Regions from separate parts of the Homo sapiens genome. Here region 2 is linked to region 1. The links come from fine-mapping of genetic effects on gene expression. Tissue or cell type: whole blood. Region 1 holds a variant in brackets; the other region holds the start of a gene. All regions are shown on one strand. Distances are from middle to middle.

Evidence for each region. PIP is the estimated chance that this variant, and not a neighbour inherited with it, causes the effect.
Region 2: ABAT starts here. The variant in region 1 is fine-mapped to the expression of ABAT in whole blood (INTERVAL, PIP above 0.99).

Annotation. Positions count from the first base shown.
Region 1 is chr16:8,726,218-8,734,322 of GRCh38, forward strand. The region is part of intron 1 of ABAT (4-aminobutyrate aminotransferase); the gene reads left to right. Among named protein-coding and RNA genes, the nearest start is that of ABAT, 56 kb to the left of the region's middle. RefSeq lists a silencer at 948-1,176 and an enhancer at 5,837-6,422. The variant A/G (reference allele first, on the strand shown) is at 3,774.
Region 2 is chr16:8,669,824-8,677,928 of GRCh38, forward strand. ABAT (4-aminobutyrate aminotransferase) reads left to right here and starts at 4,794. Exons shown (of 16, transcript NM_020686.6): 1 at 4,794-4,888. RefSeq lists enhancers at 3,791-4,292, 4,293-4,792 and a silencer at 4,387-4,846.

The sequences.
Region 1 (8,105 bases):
ATGATGATCTCCAGTTCCATCCACGTTGTTGCAAATGACTAGATCTTTTTTTTTTTTTTTTGAGATGGAGTCTCGATCTGTTGCCCAGGCTGGAGTGCAGTGGCGCCATCTCGGCTCACTGCAACCTCTGCCTCCCGGGTTCAAGCGATTCTCCTGCCTCAGCCTCCCTAGTAACTGGGACTACAGGCATGGGTCACCACACCCAGATGATTTTTGTTTTTTGTAGAGATGGGGTTTAGCCATGTTCGCCAGGCTGGCCTCATGGGATCCACCTGCCTCAGCCTCCCAAAGTGCTGGGATTACAGGTGTGAGCCACTGCGCTGAATAGTACTCCATTGCGTGTATGAACCACATTTTCTTTATCCATTCATCTGTTATTGGACACTCAGGTTGCTTCCAAATCTTAGCTATTGTAAGCAATGCTGCAACAAACATAGGAGTGCAGATATCTCTTCGATATACTGAGTTCCTTCCTTTTGTGTATTTACCCAGCAGTGGGATTCCTGGATCATATGGTAGCTCAATTTTTAGTTTTTTGAGGAACCTCCAACTGTTCTCCATAGTGGTTGTACTAGTTTACATTCCCACTAACAATGTACAAGGGTTCCCTTTGCTCCACATCCTCTCCAGCATTTGTTATTGCCTGTCTTTTGGATATAAGCCATGTTAACTGGGGTGAGATGACAGCTCTTTGTAGTTTTGATTTGCCTTCTCTGATGATCAGTGATGTCAAGCACCTTTTCATGTGCTTGCTTGCCATTTGTATGTCTTCTTTTGAGAAATATCTATTCAAATCTTTTGTCCATTTTTTGATCGAATTATGAGATTTTTTTCTATAGAGTTGTTTGACCTCCTTTTTATATTCTGGTTATTAATCCCTTGTGAGAGGAGTAGTTTGTAAATATTTTCTCTTGTTCTGTGGGTTGCCTCTTCGCTTTGTTGGTTGTATCCTTTGCTGGAGGACAGACCCTTCTGGATGCAACTAGAGCAGCTGGGCTCCCTCCTCCCTTTGAGAGGGTCTCCAGAGGGCCCTATCAATCAAGATCAGCCTAGAAATTGTTGCTCGAGTTGGCTCCAGATGACCGCACCTTCACCTTCCCTCCAAGTGCTCTATGATTTCTTACCACACCCACTCTCACTGTGCACCAGGATCCTTAGCTACTCCGTGTCATCATACACCTCCGAGCACTTGCCTTATCCCTGCTTTCTTCATTGCCTTCTGAAATCGCCTAACTTTTGAAGATGCAGCTCAGGCAACACCTCCCTGACATTGTCACCCCAGCCAGAAAGAATCTCCCCGTATTCCCTTAGCACTTCACTCACACCAGCAAAATAGTTGTGATTCTGTTCTATCTTATGCAGAATTTGTTGTTGACAGTGAACTGGAAAATTTTTATGTACATATCATGCTGAGTTATTTTAAGAAAGTATTCACATGATGGGTAAAGCAGCCTAGTACATTAAATTCTTCCATTTTCTTTCCGCTCATAGTTCTCTGCCACTAAATTATGAGCTTCAGAAAGAAAGCAATTTATCCATCTTGGTTTCTCCTAAGAGAAGTGATGACTTGGCCAGGAGCGGTGGCTCATGCCTGTAATCCCAACCGTTTGGGAGTCCAAGATGGTAGGATCACTTGAGCTCAAGAGTTTGAGACCAGCCTGGGCAAAATAGCAAGACCTCATCTCTACTAAAAATTTAAAAAAATTAGCCAGGCATGATGGCACATGCCTGTAGTCCCAGCTACTTGGACGGCTGAGATGGGAAGATTGCTAGAGCCCGGGCGATAGAGGCTGCAGTGAGCCCTGATCGCCCCACTGCACTCCAGCCTGGGCGACAGAGTGAGACCCTGTCAGAGAGAGAGAGAGAGAGAGATTGATTATATCTAAACGATGCAGTGCCTTGCTGATAACAGGTGCCTAATTAACTTGTGTTGATTGAATTAGTGGATGAGAGGGAGTGAATGAATGACGTTAACTCTTCCAATTGTTTGAAATATATTGTGCTAAGAATTAATGTCTAACAGAGATCAGATTTTGTTATAAGGTCAATTTTCAACTGCAGGCCACCAAAATGTCACCACGGTATATTTTCCAATGTGACATTTTGTAATTGAAAACGTGTGGGATTGGCTCTCACTTTTGCAGAATATTCAAATGTTGAGTTCTCTGAGACATTCGGAGTTTCAAAAACGTGTTTAATGGAAATTGAATTGTGTGACGCCTCAGTGCTCCCTGTTTCAGACAAGTGGTTTTAAGGGAAAGACATGAACTGCACTTTCTACACAGTTACTCTGTTGCTAAATTAATAGGCTTGCATTGAGTCGGATATCCTGGAATAGAAAAAAAAAATCCATTGAGTTATTAAGAAAAGAGTTTGGGCCATGCACAGTGGCTCACACCTGTAATTCCAGCACTTTGGGAGGCAGAGGCGGGTGGATCACAAGGTCAGGAGATTGAGAACCTTCTGGCCAACATGGTAAAACCTCATTTCTACTAAAAATACACAAATTAGCCAGGTGTGGTGGCACATGCCTATAATCCCAGCTACTCGGGAGGCTGAGGCAGGAGAATCGCTTGAACCAGGGAGTCAGAGGTTGCAGTGAGCCGAGATCACGCCACTGTACTCCAGCCTGGCAACAGAACAAGACTCCATCTCAAAAACAAAGAGTTTGGTTTCTCAGTTAATTCATGGCCACACTTTCCAAGCCCACACTTTCTCAGAAAGTTTCCTCTGGTGAAAAGCAATAAAATTTATTCTGTGAACTACGTCATTTTTATTCATGAAGCCTCATATCAACAATAGCTAGGGGCCGGGCACGGTGGCTCACGCCTGTAATCTCAGCACGTTGGGAGGCCAAGGCAGGCAGATTACTTGAGCTCAGGAGTTCAAGACCATCCTTCACAACGTGAGAAAAACCTGGCTCTACTGAAAAAAAAAAAAATTAGCTGGGCGTGGCGGCGTTCGCCTGTAGTTCCAGGTACTTGGGAGGTGGCAGGATGGCCTGACCCTGGGGGAGGCAGAGGTTGCAGTAAGCTAAGATTACACCACTGCTCTCCAGCCTGAGTGACAGAGCCAGACCCTGTCTCAACAAAAACAAAAACAGCTAGGAGTTTTGTTATTAGCTGGATTAACTGATGTTACAATGCATAGAGGCAGGGGCTTTGGGGTCAGACAGTCTCAGGTAAGCCTATGACTGAGGCCGAATGTCATAACCTCTCTGAGCCTCCCTTTTATCATCTCTGAACAGGGAGATTACCCTACTCCTATAGATGTTTGAGCAAAGAGAAGGGAGTAATGTACCCTTCAGAATGTCTCACAAAGACCAGGCACCATGCCTCATGCCTATAATCCCAGCACTTCAGGAGCCAAGATGGGAGGATCATTTGAGCACAGGAGTTTGAGACCAGCCTGGGCAACACAGCGAGACCCCTGTCTCTAAAAAATATATATATTTAAAAATTAGCTGGGTATGGTGGTGCATGCCTGTAGTCCCAGCTACTTGGCAGGGCTAAGGTGGGAGGATCTCTTGAGCCCAGGAGTTCAAGGCTGCAGTGAGCAATGATCACGCCACTGCTCTCTAGTCTTTCTTTTGTCTAGCCCTTTTTTGTCTTAAAAAAAAAAAAAAAAAAGACCCTGTTTGAATGCTGGATCATCTCAGTGGGTAGAGAGTGTCAGGACTCTGGCCCAGCCCTGTCTAGTCAACCATGGCCAGTAGGGCCAGGTCTATGCCCCCGCAGAGGAATGGGGAAGTATCTGAGAAGGGGGAGGAAGGA[A/G]GTGCAGAGCAGACACCCCAGAAGATACTTCCTGCACCAACCCCACCCCACCCGTGATAGTACCTCAGTTGCCTGAAGACAGGATAATGACCTGTCTCTGTCTTCTAGGAGCTGCCTCCTAGGGCTCTGGGGATGAAACGAGATGGTTCTACAGCACCAGCTGAGAGCCTGCACATAGCAAGTGCCCAGTACTTGATGATGCTTAGAGGGTAAGGACGGCCTCTAATTGATCTTTATGTGCCCTAGTGCCCAGTGAAGGGTCTGGCACACGGTAGGTGTACCATGAATGTTCGTAGCACAAATGCATCAATGGCAACCGCCTCCCTCCTTCATTCACTCTTTCCTTCTAATAATACAGCCAACATTCTATTAGCTCTGTGGGCAGCCACAGCGTGCTGGAACTCGCCATCCTGGGCTCGGTGCCTGATTCTCCACACTATTCCTGCCCTGTGCTGCTGAGCCCACGTGTTTCCCAGCACCTGAACCTGTACTCTGAACCCGCCTGTCATTCCTCCTTGCCCTGTTCTCTCTCCTTGGATACAGGCCTCCCCTCCAGCTGTGGGATCTCTCTAGGTCTGTATTTATCACCTCTGGTTGGCACTTCCTATATGCTGTCATCACAGAAGCAGGGGGTGGGAGAAGCCTCTTGGTCTTCATCCAGGTCTAGGATGGAATTTCTGTCCACTGTGGGGCTGGGTAGAGTTAGGCAGCCCAAGCCAGGGCTGCATGAGGAAAGGGCTGCGTCCCCAGGGTCTGTCACAGAGTAAGTTTCAGGTGTTGCAACTCGCAATAAATCCATGCATTAGGCACAAGCCAGGACTCCTGAGCCAGATATCTCTCAACCCCAACGCTGGCTCCACCAGCAACTTGCTGTGTCCTGGGTAAACCACATGGCTTCTTTTAAAAAAAATAGTTTTACTTTGTTTACTGTCCAAAGTACTCATTAATTGTTTATTTATCAAGAGAAACTATTTCTAATTTTTTGTGTGTGAGACGGTGTCTCACTCTATCACCCAGACTGGAGTGCGGTGGTGTGATCTTGGCTCACTGCCATCTCCGCCTCCCAGGTTCAAGCGATTCTTGTGCCTCAGACTCCTGAGTAGCTGGGATTACAGGCGTGCACCACCACACCCAGCTAATTTTTGTATTTTTAGTAGAGACAGGGTTTTACTGTGTTGGCCATGCTGATCTCGAACTCCTGACCTCAAGTGATCCACCTGCCTTGGCCTCCCAAAATTCCGGGATTACAGGAGTGAGCCACCCTGCCAGCCCAAAGAGAAACTATTTCTTAGCCCCCATATTCATGTTTCATAGTTCAGGAACACAGGTCAGTGATAAACTTCTAGGTAACTCAACCCAAAGAAATTCTTTATATTCCAAAATCACTTTGCACTCTGAACAATAACAGCCATCCTCATCGCTTCTACATATGCCTTGTTTCTTGGTTCAGCCACAGCAAACTTATAGAGAGCTGCAACTCTCAGGGATACAATGACTGCTCCAACAATGTGAAATGGCAGACTCTGGACCAGAAGGCCACACACCTGAGTTTTGTCAAAGCACTGGAAGCCGTGGTAGTTGTCTAGTTGTCCTTGATAGGTATGTCAACCTCAACACCAATGTCTTTCCTGGATCACTTTTCTTTTTTTTTTTTTAATTGTTATTTTAAAAATCACACAGATAACATAAAATTTACCATCTTCACCATTTTCAAGTATACAGTACGGTATTATAAGCACTTTTGTTGTATAGTGAAGCTCCAGAACTACTTCATCCTGCAAACTGAAACTCCAAACACACTAAACAATGTCCTTTTTTCCCTTCCCCCAGCCCTCGGCAACCTCTTTTTCCTCTTTTTCTGTTTCTCTTTTTTTCCTCCTTGAAACAGAGTCTCGCCCTGTCGCCCAGGCTGGAGTGCAGTGGTGCGATCTCAGCTCACTGTAACCTCTGCCTCCCGAGTTGAAGTGATTCTCCTGCCTCAGCCTCCCAAGTAGCTGGGATTACAGGAGCTCACAACCACGCCCGGGTAATTTTTTATGTTTGGTAGAGACGGGGTTTCACTATGTTGGCCAGGCTGGTCTTGAACACCTGACCTCAAGTGATCCACCCATCTCGGCCTCCCAAAGTGCTGGGATTAGAGGCATGAGTCACCATGCCCAGACCCTCTATCTGTTTCTAGGAGGTTGACTACTTTAGGTTTTTTTTGTTTTTTTTTTTTGTTTGTTTGTTTTTTTAATTTATTTATTTTTTATTGATAATTCTTGGGTGTTTCTCACAGAGGGGGATTTGGCAGGGTCATAGGACAATAGTGGAGGGAAGGTCGGCAGATAAACAAGTGAACAAAGGTCTCTGGTTTTCCTAGGCAGAGGACCCTGCGGCCTTCCGCAGTGTTTGTGTCCCTGGGTACTTGAGATTAGGGAGTGGTGATGACTCTTAACGAGCCTGCTGCCTTCAAGCATCTGTTTAACAAAGCACATCTTGCACCGCCCTTAATCCATTTAACCCTGAGTGGACACAGCACATGTTTCAGAGAGCACGGGGTTGGGGGTAAGGTCACAGATCAACAGGATCCCAAGGCAGAAGAAGTTTTCTTAGCACAGAACAAAATGAAAAGTCTCCCATGTCTACTTCTTTCTACACAGACACGGCAACCATCCGATTTCTCAATCTTTTCCCCACCTTTCCCGCCTTTCTATTCCACAAAACCGCCATTGTCATCCTGGCCCGTTCTCAATGAGCTGTCGGGCACACCTCCCAGACGGGGTGGTGGCCGGGCAGAGGGGCTCCTCACTTCCCAGTAGGGGCGGCCGGGCAGAGGCGCCCCTCACCTCCCGGACGGGGCGGCTGGCCGGGCAGAGGGGCTCCTCACTTCCCAGTAGGGGAGGCCGGGCAGAGGCGCCCCTCACCTCCGGACGGGGCGGCTGGCCGGGCGGGGGGCTGACCCCCCTACCTCCCTCCCGGACGGGGCGGCTGGCCGGGCGGGGGGCTGATGCCCCCACCTCCCTCCCGGACGGGGCGGCTGGCCTGGCAGGGGGCTGATCCCCCCACCTCCCTCCCGGATGGGGCGGCTGGCCGGGCGGGGGGCTGACCCCCCCACCTCCCTCCCGGATGGGGCGGCTGGCCGGGCGGGGGGCTGACCCCCCCCCACCTCCCTCCCGGACGGGGTGGCTGCCAGGCGGAGACGCTCCTCACTTCCCAGACGGGGCGGCTGCCGGGTGGAGGGGCTCCTCACTTCTCAGACGGGGCGGCCGGGCAGAGACGCTCCTCACTTCCTAGATGTGATGGCGGCCGGGAAGAGGTGGTCCTCACTTCCTAGGTGGGATGGCGGCCGGGCGGAGACGCTCCTCACTTTCCAGACTGGGCAGCCAGGCCGAGGGGCTCCTCACATCCCAGACGATGGGCGGCCAGGCAGAGACGCTCCTCACTTCCCAGACGGGGTGGCGGCCGGGCAGAGGCTGCAATCTCGGCACTTTGGGAGGCCAAGGCAGGCGGCTGGGAGGTGGAGGTTGTAGCAAGCCGAGATCACGCCGCTGCACTCCAGCCTGGGCACCATTGAGCACTGAGTGAACGAGACTCCGTCTGTAATCCCGGCACCTCGGGAGGCCGAGGCTGGCGGATCACTTGCGGTTAGGGGCTGGAGACCGGCCTGGCCAACACAGCGAAACCCCGTCTCCACCAAAACCAGTCAGGCGTGGCGGCGTGAGGCTGCAATCGCAGGCACTCGGCAGGCTGAGGCAGGAGAATCAGGCAGGGAGGTTGCAGTGAGCCGAGATGGCAGCAGTACAGTCCAGCTTCGGCTCAGCATGAGAGGGAGACCGTGGAAAGAGAGGGAGAGGGAGAGGGAGAGGGAACTGAATCTTAATCTACTTTAGGTTTCATATGACAGGAATCATGCAGTATCTGACCTTTGGTGACTGGCTTATTTCACTTAGCATAATGTCTTCCAGTCTCATCCATGTTGCAGCATATAACAGGATTTCCTCCTTTTTTAAGGCTGCATAATATTCCACTCTGTGGATACAGCATATTTTTTCCCATTCATCTGTCAATGGACGTCTAGGTTGCTTCCACCTCTTGGCTATTGTGAATAATGCTACAGTGAACATGGGTTAAAATACCTCACTTCTGGAGCCTCAGTTTCCTCATCTGTAAAATGGGGATAATCACGCCTGCCCCATTGTTGCTGGCACGTGAAAGAAGCCTGATAAATCATGCTCCTAGCACCTTTCACTTTTCCTTCAAGGCACTTCTCCCCATTATAATGATGCCCTTGTTTATGTTATGATTCATTTCATTCTCTTTGTTCCTCATGAAGATGTAAGCTCCAGGCCT
Region 2 (8,105 bases), 56 kb before region 1:
TTCTTCTAAGAATTTTATAGTGTTAGGTCTTATATTTATTTAGGTCTTTGATCCAATGTTGAGTTAGTTTTTTTATATGGTGTGAGGTAAGCGTCTATCTTCTTTCTTTTACATGTGAAAACGTGGTAGATACTTTATTCAATTTACAGATTAGAACATAGAGACTGAGAGGGAGTAAATGACATGTCCAGAGTCACATAGCCATTGGGAGTTGGAACTAGAATTCAATATTAGGTCTGACTCCCAAGTTGATCCCCTTTCCACCACATCAAAATGCCCTTTATTATTTTGTATAGATGATATCTCTTTATTATTTTGTGACCAGGGATGTGGAAATCACAGGCCTAGTCAATAAAATATGTGCTTTAATCTGGCTCTGGACAAGTTATTCCTCCTCTCTGGGCCTCAGTCTCCTCTTCTGTACAATGGGCTGCTGATCTCTAAGAGTCTCTCCTGTGGAGACAACTGGTACCCTTGGAGCCTCATTCACCCTTGCCTTTGTTTTCATTTCTCCTCTCCAGAGTGCAGTGGGGGCCCTCCCAGCTACAGCTGCGCTTCTGGAAGGAGCTTATTGATAGGCACAGAGTATGGGTGAGTCTTCATCCCAGGCCTCAGCCAAACTCTGGGAAACACTCTGCATTCCCTGGCAGACAGCTGCAACCCCAAGCAGCTCCATAGGAAAACTGCAGAATGGCAGAAAATGCAAGGGAAGCCAATATGGAAAGGGCTTTTTCCACATGCTGACAGTTTTCTTCACAAGTATCACAATGAAGCTATTTGAGAATCAGCTTGCAAAGCACCTGGCTCTAAATAGCCTTCTCTCCCTAGTCCTTAAGTAGAGACAAAGCAGCTCCTTTTATCCTCTAGAAGTGCCCTTTCCTAGGGCCTGACCCACAAATGGGTGCTCAAAACCTAGTTGAATGAATGAATGAACAGATGAATGAAGATGGCTACACACACTTCTTATTTCCCTTGATTGCCTTAGACCAGGACACGGCAGATTTTTCGCAAAGGGCTGGAAGGTAAATATTGTTGTCTTTTCAGGTCACAGAGTCTCTGTCACAGCTACTCAGCTCTGCTGTTGTAGCTCACAGACAGCCATAGACAATGCATAAATAAATAGGCCTGGCTGTGTTCCCATAAAATTTTATTTATGCACAGTAAAATTTGAATTTTATGTAGTTTCTATGTGTCACATAACATTATTCTTCTTGTGAATTTTTTTAACCATTTAATATGTAAAACCAATCTTAGCTCATGGTCATAGGAAAACATGATGAACTACATTTGGTCTATGAGCTATAGTTTGTCAACCTTTGGCTTAGACTCTTTTTTAAAAAAAAATTATTTATAAATAGAGATGGGGTTTCGCCATGTTGGCCAGGCTGGTCTCGAACCCCTGGCCTCAAGTGATCTGCCCGCCTCAGCCTCCCAGAATACTGGGATTACAGGTGTGAGCCACCACTCCGGGCCCTTTGGTTTAGACTTTTCCTTTCTGTTTTTCATTTTAAATATTTTCTTCTTAGTACCAGAGTAATATATATTCATTACAGAATAATTAGAAATTAGTGACATTGTAAAGTTTATCCTCTATTAAAAATAAACCCAAGGGGATAAAAAGAAATTACTGACATGGACATGCAAATAAAGTAATATTAGAATAATCTATAATTTCAATACACAAAAATAACCATTCTCCTACTGAACACAGTTTTTCACTCAGCATTGCTAGCTAGCTATATCGGTGCCTTTTAATATGATAGCCACTAGCTACCTGTTACTGTTACACCTTAAATTAAAATTAGATACAGGCTGGGCGTGGTGGTTCACACCTGTAATCCCAGCACTTTGGGAGGCTGAGGCAGGCAGATCACTGGAGGCCAGGAGTTTGAGACCAGCCTGGCCAACATGACGAAACCCTGTCTCTACTAAAAATTAAAAAATTAAACAACGAGCCAGGCGTGGTGGAGCACGCTTGTAATCCCAACTACTCAGGAGGCTTAGGCAGGAGAACCGCTTGAACCTGGGAGGCAGAGGTTGCAGCGAGCTGAGATCACACCACTGCACTCCAGCCTGGGTGACAGAGCGAGACTCCGTCTCTAAAAAAATAAATAAATAGATACAATTAAAATACAGTTATTCGGTTAACTAGTCATTGCTTTTTCCAAAATTTTAAATTTATTTTTCCCTTTTCCTTTTTTTATTATTTCTTTCTTTCTTTTTTTTTTTTAAACATCTTGGATACCAAAATTAGTCATTTCAGGTGTTCAATACCTCCATGTGGCTAGTGGCTACCACACGGGACGGCACAGATATAGAGCATCATAGAAAGTTATATTACACAGCATTGATCTAGCTCTACCTGGTAGATTTAACAAAAAGTAAGATGTTTAACAAAAAGTAAGACAGTACCAAATATACTGTTTTTGCAAATAACTTAACATTTTGAGATTTGTTTTGTTTTGTTTTTGAGACAGGGTCTCACTCTGTCACCCAGCTGGAGTACAGTGGTGTAATCTTGGCCCACAGCAGCCTCAACCTCCCAGGCTCAAGGCTGCCTCAGTCTCCTGAGTAGCTGGGACTACATGCATGCGCCACATCGCCCGGATAATTTTTGTATTTTTTGTAGAGACAGGGTTTCACTATGTTACCCAGGCTGGTCTTGAACTCCTTGGCTCAAGCGATCCTCTTGCCTTGGCTTCCCAAAGTGCTGGAATTACAGGCGTGTCACCACACCCAGCCCCATTCAATATTTCATACCTATGTTTATTGTTCAATTTCATGCAACAATTTCCCTCTGAGTCCCTGCTGTTGTGCATTCAAGTTGTTCCCAGTTTTTCCCTGTGATAAACAAAATGGTAGTAAGCTACTTTATCATTAAATCTTTGTACCTTTAAATGTTTTCAGATAAGTTCATAGGGATTGGATTGCTAGATCAAAGGGTCAACTTACTTTTAAGATTTTTAAAATAGAAATACCCAATTTCCCTCCAGAAAGGCTGTGATCTTTCTACTGCCATCATCAATACATGAAACTCCTTGAAGTCTTTGCAAAGAATAGTAATTATAATAATAAAAACAAGGTCATTTTGGTAGGTAAACTCTTTCCCTCTTTTGGTTTTAACTTGCCTTTCCTTTTCAAAGTGTCATCTCCCATGTTTATTGGCCGTTGTATTTCTTTGGGCAGGTCAAGGGTAGTAAAGGGGATTATGTTCATGGCTTTGGTTTTAAGAAAAAATTGCTAGATTTTCAGCACAGGCCTCATCAAGTTCCTCAAGCAAGGTGACAATCACCCAGGCTAGAGTGCAGTGGTGCCATCTCACCTCAGTGCAACCACTGCCTCTCCATTCAAGCGATTCTCATGTCTCAGCCTCCCAGGTAGCTGGGATTACAGGCAGGTGCCACCATGCCAGGCTAATTTTTGTATTTTTAATAGAAAGGGGGTTTCCCCATGATGGCCAGGCTGGTCTCGAGCTCTGGGCATCAAGTGATCTGCCTGCCTCGGCCTCCCAAAGTGCTGGAATTACAGGCGTAAGCCACTGTGCCAGGCCTCAATTATTCTTATTTACTGCTCTGTGTGTGTGTGTGTGTGTGTGTGTGTGTGTGTGTGTGTGTGTTGGGGGGGAGGGTCCCCAGAGGTGACACTAGGAGGTGAATGATTTGTTTGGCAGCTTTCTATTTATCTATGTGTTTACTTTATCTTAATTCTTTAATTGCAAGGACTATAGCGCTTGTGTAATCAGAGATAGGGCAGCCTGGATTCCTGGACAGCAGGAGGAGAGACCTCAGGGTTCTACAAGACTCCACAGACCAAGTTATCAGTGATCAGGGTGAGTGGGGAGAACCAAGCTGAACTCTTTCTCTGCCTTTAAGGTCTGTACTCTCCATCCATCCATTCATTCATTATGAGGACTTGGTGATCGCCTGTTGTCTTGATGAGCAGTTCTTTGTGTCTTTGATTTTGTCACTGAAAGATTGCATCCTCTTTCCAAATACCTCTAGAAAGCTGTGGGGGGGCTATCCATCCGTCACACCTGAGTATTAATTATCTTCCACACAGCATTTTATACAACGGTAGAAAGGCACCTTCATCATATCTAGGGTCTCGTTTATACCCACGAAGGAGGTACAATCTCTGTTGTCCCAATTTCAGGAAATTGAGGATCAGGAGGCGCAGTGACCTGCTCCAGGTCATGCAGAAGGAACCACCTCTGACTCCCAGCGCCCTGTTTGTCTTCCGGAGCGCTGGGGCCAGGCGGAGGAAAGTAGCTGGGAGCAAGAAGGGCTGGCAGGGCCCTGAGCGCCGAGATGGGGAGTGAGGTGGGGAGGGCGGGATGCTCCTTCCCTTCTCCGCAAAGGAACCCCTTCTGATTCCGACTCTGGAGCTCCAGAGACCGGATCCGAGACGCGGGTGGAGGTGGAGTTACACTCGCCTGCAGCCCTGAGGGTGTAAATGGCCCATTAAGATCCAGGTTAAATCAACCTATGGAGCTGCCCCCCAGAGGGTCAGGGTCCCCACAACTTGACGGGGGTCCTCAGCCGTCTCCTCCCCAGTCCCAGGACTCCCTCCCAGCCCTCGCGGTCCCTCTGGTGGGTCCCGCCCCAGCCCCCGTCTCCCCCGCCCCCGGAGGCTGGACTCTGCCCCCGCCCCGCCTGCCACCTCCCTCCTGGGGGCGGTGGCCCGTGGCGGGCGCACCCATTGGCTGTGGCGAAAGCGAGGGCCGGGGCTGGCGGCGCTGATTGGCCGGGACGCTCGGCGGAGCCAGGGAGTCCGGCGAGTCGCTGGGGGAAGTCGAGCAGACACCCAGCGCTGCCGGAACTCGGGGCGCGCATCCCGCAAGTCGGAACCCGGCGGATCGGATCCCGCAGATCGGAGACGGGGCCTGGAGGTGAGCGCGAGGCGCCGGGTGGCTTGGGACGGGCCCTTCCGAGGGGAGCCGAGAGGAGGTCCTTCTGCCCTGCCCCCAGGAGCAAAACCTGGGCATCTTCTCCTGGAAACGGAGCCCTCATCTTCCCAAGACGCGGGGCCCTCCCCCGAAAAGACAGGGGCTCCCACCCCCCAGAGAGCAAAATACCTTCCTTTCTCCTTCAGAAATGGGCCCTTCCTCCTGGCTCCAGCTCTAGACAGAAGTCCTCTCCCTTTTACCGCTTGAAATAGAATGCGGCCCCAAAAAGTGGTCTCCAGGTCTCTAGAGCCCCCTCACCTCTTGGGAGACTGATGCCCCTTCCCCATCCTTAGAAAACTAAGTTTGGGTGTCTTCCTTCTCCCCTCTCTTTCGGAATAATGGGGGTCTTCTCAGCTTATAAATTACAGTGACCTCCCCCTCCATGACAAATGGAAGCTCTCCCCCCATCATAAGACAAGGAAATCCCGGAGCAGAGACTCTGCAAGTCACCCTCCCACCCCAGATACTGGGCTCTGGAGAGATAGATGATTCACCCTTAGCCCTGCCGGAGACCCCTCCCTACCCGTCAGAGAGGCAGGGTGGCCTCTGACACCACCACATTAAAGGCTTTTGGGGATTTCCCCTCTCCTCCCCAGTAAAGATGTAAAATGAGGGACCTTCATACTCAGGAGCAGGGCAAAGGTCTGGCCACCCCTCCAAGTCATCCACCTCCCTCCACTCCACCCAAGCCCTTTCACACAAACCCCATCCTAGTAACCCCCTGCACCATCCTCCCACCGCTCCCAATCCCATCCTTCTCCACCTCACCCCAACTCCACTCCCACACCTGGCTGCCCCACCTATTTCACATCCTCTCACCTTTCCTCACCCACCCTGGCCAAGGTAAGACTAGAGGGGGTTCAGCGAGATTTAGTAAGACTGGAGCTCTTAAAACTGGGATCTGGGGCCTAGAGGCCCTTCCAGGAGTCTTCAAACTCTGACAACAGAGATGGCCTCTGAGGCAGCAGGACCAGCAGAGACCACCCGCCACCTCTCCCCCGCTCCCTGCCCCAACACACGCACAAAGGCTGTGTTCAATGCATTCTCTCTTGCAGTCTGGGAGGACAGCTGGCCCTCTTCCAAGAGGGCCCGCATTTCCCCCCTAAAGTGTGCACCCCCGCAAGCGCCTGTGGACATTGCCTGGTGGAATTCCCTGGGCACTCAGCCAAGAGAAATGGGTGCTGCTGGGCCCATCCACTGGGGAGGAGACAGTGTTGGCTTTGCTGCTTTGATGAAGCTAGACTAAGGGACAGGATGTTGGTGACCTGGGGGTGGGGAGGGGGTGGGAAGAGCTCTTCTCTGGTGGGTCAGGTTGGGAGGCAGGAGAGAGGGAGGCAGTGAGTTGTGTCTTGCTCTTTGGAGCCTGTGTTGCGGCGTGGAGTCATAGAGAAATGTGTTTTCTCGAGGCCCAAAGAGGTTAGCCACGGGGAGAGGTAAATGGTCCAGTCTGGAGTCCTAAGACCTAAAAGGGCTTCTGCATTAAAGACGTGGCCCCTTCATTTGACAGTTAAACACACAGAGGCACAAAAGGGGAAGAGACTTGCTCAAGGTCACCCAGCCTGTGGGAGACAGCTGGCCCCAACCCCTCCAGGACCCTTAAGGTGCTAGGATCCCTGACACAAGCCCCAGTCCTCACATTTACAATGGGGACTTGGGGACTGCTGGGTCCCAAGTCCCCACTTGTCAGAGGAAGCGCCAAGGCTCTGCAAAGGTCATGAAGCCAGGAAGGGGCAGAGCTGGAACTCAATGCCATCCCCCAGCAGGCTGCCTCGTGGAATCCATTCCTGGGTGTCAGCGCATCCCTGCTTACCCCGTGCGATCTTTGTGTTGAGGCCATTGCCAAATCTAGGCTTGCCAAAATCCAAACTGACCCAGGATAGCTAATAAGATCAGTTGCAGCTAATGAGAATGAGATGCTGGAGTGGAGGCTACTGCAGGAACCTCACTTGCATAGCTGGGTTTGCTCCAAGAACTTTGGACAGGTCCTGAGGATGTCATATTCCTTCCCTCCAAGGTCCCCTCCCTCTTAGCCCCTGCCCACGCCCTCTGGCTTTGAGTTCCCTGCACATTGTCTCATCTCTGTTCAGAGGCCTGCGTCTTTTCTCCTGGGGCATTGCATGGGAAAAGAGCTGAAATTCTGGCAGATTCTCTAGGACCACCCAGCTGGGCAGCATGGTCTGAAGTAGAGGCTCTCTCTGTTTCTGCCCCCACCCAGTTCCCAGCTAAAGGATTGGTTGTTGTGCCCCAACTTTGCCAAGGCGAAGTTCAAAGCATGAGGAGGACCACGGTAGAGAGGCCGAGAGGTTGGTCCCTGGAGACCTCTTATCTGGGTCGAGAGCACAAATCTGCCACTTAGTGTCTGATCTTAACCTCTCTGTGACATATCCTTGGGGTAAAATGAGTTAATCCTCATAAAATGTTTAGCACACAGCAAAATGAGCAGAAACAATGATTACAAGTGCAAAGTCATAAAACCTCTAATCATGAAGTGGGGAGGTGCTTATGCCTTAAGGCAAAACTTGTAACCCTTGCCGTAGATAATCTGCCAGGGCCAAGGTGCCTGGGGACAAGGGGATGTCTTCCTAGAGAGACAGTGTAGTATGTGGAATGGACCACAGACCCTGAAGCCAGATGGAGTAGAGAGTTGGCCACTGGTAGTGGCTGTCTATGGAAACTTAGGCAAGTCATTCATGTCTCTGAACCTCAGTTCCTCGTCTTTGAATGAGGTTTGTTGGGGTTGGACATCAGAAAAGAGACAGGTCTAGATGAGGGGTTCTCATTTTGGGCACTGTTGACAGTTGGGTCAGAGGATTCTTTGTTGTGGGACTCCCCTGTGTATTGTAGGATATTCAGCAGCGCCTCTGGTCTCTACCCACTAGATGCCAGTGACACTCCCTACCCCATGAGTCATGTCCATCAGAAATGTCTGCAGACATTGCCAGATGTGCCCTGGGGAGCAAAATCATCCTTTTCCTTCGCTATTGAGAACTGCTGGTCTAATACATGGCCTTAAACATAGTTGATACTTAATATAAAACAGCTTCCTAGCTGAGGCGGGTGGATGGCTTGAGCCCAGGAGTTTGAGACCAGCGTGGGCAACATGGCAAAACCCCATCTCTGTAAAATACAGGAAAAAAAAAATCAGCTGGTCATGGTGGCA